Linked DNA regions of Homo sapiens: region 1 is linked to region 2. Evidence: fine-mapped expression QTL. Tissue or cell type: whole blood. Region 2 holds a variant in brackets; the other region holds the start of a gene. All regions are shown on one strand. Distances are from middle to middle.

Region 1 (2,662 bases), 56 kb after region 2:
CTAGCCCTGTTCATCATTCTCTAGGCCCTTCAGTGAGGCCTACAGTGTTCACCTGGCCCAGGGGATCCTAGGATCTTGGAAGGAGAGGAAGCCCCTGGGTTATGTTCAGGAAAAGTGCTGTGTTGGATCTCGCTCTTTTTTTTCTTTGAGATGGAATCTCGCTCTGTCGCCCAGGCTGGAGTGCAGTGGCACGATCTCAGCTCACTGCAACCTCTGCCTCCCGGGTTCAAGTGATTCTCCTGCCTCAGCCTCCTGAGTAGCTGGGATTACACCATGGCCAGCTAATTTTTGTATTTTTAGTAGAGATGGGGTTTCACCATGTTGGTCAGGCTTGTCTTGAACTCCTGACCTCGTGATCCGCCTACCTCAGCCTCCCAAAGTGCTGGGATTACAGGCGTGAGCCACCGTGCCTGGCCTTGGATCTCTTTTTATCTTGCACCTTCAGATGTAGAGGGACGACAGCCACTGTGTGTGTATGTGTATGTGTGTGTGTGTGTGTGTGTGTGCGCGTGTGATGTTTATTCACTCATTTATTTATTCATTCATTCATTCCACAAATATCTACCCAGACCCTCTTGGCACTGCACCAGGTGCTAGGGGTAGAACAGTAACCTGGAAAGATGAGGCAAATGGTTGATTTCAGATTCAAGGCTTTGGACTCCAGCTGTTCTGTCATCCAGCTCAGGCAGGCCCTCATAATCGCTTCAATCAGGGAGAACACAGGAGAGTTTCTCTGGGGTGTCGGCAGCTCAGAGGAGACCCAAATACTAGGAGACCCCTTTTTCCCATGCTTCCCAGTCCTCCAGTTTATTTCCCCCAGGAGGGAGGGAGACAAGACCCAGGAGTCAGGGTTGTAGTGGCTGGGCGGCCCAGGCAAGTCTGCTTGTTACAGGCACTTGTGCCAGGACAGGATTTCTTCCAGTTTCATATTCACTGAACTGCCTTTTCCTGGGTTTCTGGGGGTGGTGCTGGAGTGGGCTCCAGGGTTGGAACGGGCCCTTGGGTGGCGGCAGCTCTCTGCTGCCCCCACCTGAGTCCTGCCCGGAGGTGGCAGGTGACGGGTTAGGCCCAGCCCCCTCTGGGCCTAGCCACTCAGGTACGAGGCCTTTCCCCCCCATCCCCCGGGGCTGGGATCTCTTTTATAAAAGGCCATTCCTGAGAGCTCTCCTCACCAAGAAGCAGCTTCTCCGCTCCTTCTAGGATCTCCGCCTGGTTCGGCCCGCCTGCCTCCACTCCTGCCTCTACCATGTCCATCAGGGTGACCCAGAAGTCCTACAAGGTGTCCACCTCTGGCCCCCGGGCCTTCAGCAGCCGCTCCTACACGAGTGGGCCCGGTTCCCGCATCAGCTCCTCGAGCTTCTCCCGAGTGGGCAGCAGCAACTTTCGCGGTGGCCTGGGCGGCGGCTATGGTGGGGCCAGCGGCATGGGAGGCATCACCGCAGTTACGGTCAACCAGAGCCTGCTGAGCCCCCTTGTCCTGGAGGTGGACCCCAACATCCAGGCCGTGCGCACCCAGGAGAAGGAGCAGATCAAGACCCTCAACAACAAGTTTGCCTCCTTCATAGACAAGGTGAGGGTCCCCCCTGCGTGGCTGACTGTGCCCGCAGCCCCTTTCTCCTGGTAGTCCCGGTCCCTATGCACATCTCCAGCCCCCAGCTGGCGTCCTGCTGGGCCTCACCCGCCCTGGCGACACTCTCCCTTCCATCCTCCGACTCACCCCTCCCGTGCACCTTGGTTTGGGCTGGGTGAGGGTGGGGAGAGGGTCTGGACAGCCGGGATGAATCCTGGGGCTTCCTTCTTCCCTTTTAAACTGGAGGGTCTTGGAAGAGAGAGACAACTTAAGGGTACAGCCTAGTTCCCACCACCCCTCTCTACAAATCCCGTTCTTCCTCAGGTCATTCTGTCCCCAAATTATAAAAAATAATAGCGGTTATTGTTCTCACCCCAACCCGAGTTCTGACCGTCTTTTAAGCTATCGCCCTGCGGCAGTCCCAGCTGTTCGGGGACTACCCTCCTCCAGGTTCGCCTCTTCGCCAGCACTACCCCAAGGGCTCCCCAGTGGTGCCTTTGTGATTTTTTTTCTTTCTTTTCTTTTTTTTACATAGGGGTTTGGTGTGATTCTAGCATTCTAGGAGAAGGAAGTGGGTGTCTCGGTTCAAACGGGCAAATATTGATTGAGGCCTTTGGCGCCCGGAGGCCTGAGTGCGGGGGTCACAGAATGAGTCATACCCCGGCCCCTGCGCCGGCAGCGTGGGCGGGGCCGAGGGCGGGGTGAGGGGCTGCGGGCAGCAGTCTCGGGACGCTCTCCTCCACCTGGCGGAGCTCGGCGTCGGGGGCGGTGTGGGTGGGGTGGGGTGGGGTGGGGTGGGCTGGGGTGGGGTGGAGGAGGCGCCAGGGCCTGGCCTCGGAAAGCCCATGCAGGATTCAAAGTCTGCGGGCGTGGGACGCCCCGCCCGGGGTTTACGTCCTGTTAAGTTTATGGCTTCAGATAACGCGGTCGCCCACCAACGCCCCTCGCCCATTCAGCCCGTGTCCCTTTCTCGCGTCCTGTCCCTGCTCCGCCCCAGCGGCCTGGCTCCACTTTCACACAGCAGGAGCCAGGCCGGGTTTTGCAGCCCTGGGACTCCGCTGCCTGAGGGGCCCCGGGCCCCCGGCGGCCCCG
Region 2 (2,844 bases):
CACAGTGCCTGACACATAGAAAGTGCTCAGTAAATACTGGTTACTGGCCAGGCGCGGTGGCTCATGCCTGTAATCCCAGCACTTTGGGAGGCCAAGGTGGGTGGATCACCTGAGGTCAGGAGTTTGAGACTAGCTTGGCCAACATGGTGAAACCCCATCTCTACTAAAAATACAAAAATTAGCCAGGCATGGTGGTGCACGCCTGTAATCCCAGCTACTTGGGAGGCTGAAGCAGGAGAATCACTTGAACCTGGGAGGCAGAGGTTGCAGTGAGCTGAGTTCGTGCCATTGCACTCTAGCCTGGGTGACAAGAGTGAAACTCTGTCCCCCCCAAAAAAAACCAAATACTGGTTATTATGGTAATTGCCATTGTTATATGACCAATCCAGGATGACACCAGGATGAAGAAAACAGGGTAGGCTGGGTGCGGTGGCTCACGCCTGGAATCCCAGGACTTTCAGAGGCTGAGGTGGGCAGATCACCTGAGGTCAGTAGTTTGAGACCAGCCTGGCCAACATGGTGAACCCCCCATCTCTACTAAACATACAAAAATGGTTGGGTGTGGTGGCGCATGCCTGTAGTCCCAGCTACTTGGGAGGCTGAGGCAGGGGAATCACTTGAACCCAGCAGGTGGAGGTTGCAGTGAGCTGAGATCACGCCATTGCACTCCAGCCTTGGCAACAAGAGTGAAACTGTCTCAAAACAAAACAAAACAAACAAACAAAAAACAATAACACAAACCAAAGAAACAAAAAAATAGGGTACCTGTCTTCAAGGCATTTCCAGTCTCATGGGGAAGATGACATAAATAGCTAAGTATGCCACATGATGAAATGAAACAAAGGCAGTTGGAAAATATAGCACGGTTCTGAAGCTCAAGAGAGGCTAGGGCTGGAGGTAAATATTGAGATACCAGCTCAGAGGTAGCAACAGAGTCAGGGAATAAAAATAAGATTGTCCATGGCCAGGCACGGTGGCTCACACTTGTAGTCCCAGCACTTTGGGAGGCTGAGGTGGGTGGATCACTTGAGGTCAAGAGTCCAAGACCAGCCTGGCCAACATGGTGAATCCCCATCTCTACTAAAAATACAGAAAATTAGCTGCCTGGTGGTGGGTACCTGTAATGCCAGCTGCTTGGGAGGCTGAGGTAGAAGAATCGCTTGAACCCCAAAGGTGGAGGTTGCAGTGAGCCAAGATTGTGCCACTGCACTCCAGCCTGGG[C/T]GACAGAGTTAGACTCCATCTCCAAAAAAAAAAAAAAAAGGCCCAAGAAGAGAAAAAGCTGAGGACAGCCTGCAAGGCCTGTGTTTAAAGGGCAGATGGATGAAGTGCAGCAGGCAGAGGTGAGAGGACTGCGGAGCGCAGTGGTGTGCAGGTCAAGAGCAGAAGGACATCAGGGTCAAGTGCTGCAGAGGCTGAAAAAGATGAGGAGAGAGGGGAGGCTGCTGGACTTAGACTGGTGGCCTGTGAGGGCCTTCAGTGGCAGGGTGCAGGGGGGATGAGGAGGAGCTTTGGGGCAAGGTACGTTGGCAGTCGACCCTTTCCCAATGCCCTGTGGGCCCCAAGGAGACCTAAGGGTACATACAAGGGCAAACCTGAATGTGCAGGTCGGGGGCTGAGAGATGCTGCTCATACACCCAGGACCCATCCTCGCTGCTGATCCCCAAGATATGCCAGGCTAGGTCCCTCATCTCCTTCAGTCTTGGCCCAATGTCACTTCCTGCCCAGGCTGCCCTACTTAAAACTGCAATCTGCTGGCCAGGCGTGGTGGCTCACGCCTATAATCCCAGCACTTTGGGAGGCTGAGGCAGGTGGATCACCTGAGGTTGGGATTTTGACACCAGCCTGATCAACATGGAGAAACCCCCATCTCTACTAAAAATACAAAATTAGCCTGGCATGGTGGCGCATGCCTGTAATCCCAGCTACTCGGGAGGCTGAGACATGAGAATCTCTTGAACCCGGGAGGCGGAGGTTGCAGTGAGCTGAGATTGAGCCATCGCACTCCAGCCTGGGCAACAAGAATGAAACTCCATCTCAAAAGAAAAACAAAAACAAAAAATCCTGCAATCTGCTGCCCCCTTCCTATGGTAGGCTGAATAATGGTCCCCTCCCATCCCAAGATGTCCATATCCTAACCGCCCCTCTTTGCCTGTGAGTTTCCTTACACAGCAACAGGGACCTTGCCATGTAAATCAAAGATCTTAAGTTGGGGAGATTATGCTCATTGTCTGGGTAAATCTAATGTCATCAAAGGATCCTTATAAGAAGGAGGCAGAAGGGTCAGAGAAAGGAGATGTGAGGATAATGGAAGCAGAAGTCAGGAGAGAGGGAAGTGGGGAGAGATTTGAAGATGCTGGCTTTAAAGATGGCAGATGGGACCAAGTCAAGGAATGCAGGTGACCTCTAGAAGCTGGAAAAGTCAAGGAAACCAGTTCCACCTACAACCTGTAGAAGGAAAATAGCTCTGCAGAAGCCCTGATAGGGCTTCTGATATACCAAACGGTAAGATAACAAACTGTAAGATAACGTGTACATTGTTTTTGTTGTTGTTGTTGTTGTTGTTGTTGTTTTTTGAGTCTCGCTCTGTCGCCCAGGCTGGGGTGCAGTGGTGCAATCTCCGCTCACTGCAAGCTCCGCCTCCCAGGTTCACTCCATTCTCCTGCCTCAGCCTCCTGAGTAGCTGGGACTACAGGCGCCCGCCACCACGCCCGGCTAATTTTTTTGTATTTTTAGTAGAGATGGGGTTTCACTGTGTTAGACAGGATGGTCTCGATCTCCTGACCTTGTGATCCTCCCACCTCAGCCTCCCAAAGTGCTGGGATTACAGGCGTGAGCCACCATGCC

Evidence for each region. PIP is the estimated chance that this variant, and not a neighbour inherited with it, causes the effect.
Region 1: KRT8 starts here. The variant in region 2 is fine-mapped to the expression of KRT8 in whole blood (TOPMed, PIP above 0.99).

Annotation. Positions count from the first base shown.
Region 1 is chr12:52,903,566-52,906,227 of GRCh38, reverse strand. It overlaps KRT8 (keratin 8), which reads left to right and starts at 1,152. Exons shown (of 8, transcript NM_002273.4): 1 at 1,152-1,570. The coding sequence starts at 1,247. RefSeq lists a silencer at 2,212-2,381.
Region 2 is chr12:52,959,382-52,962,225 of GRCh38, reverse strand. No RefSeq gene overlaps it. Among named protein-coding and RNA genes, the nearest start is that of KRT18, 12 kb to the right of the region's middle. The variant C/T (reference allele first, on the strand shown) is at 1,222.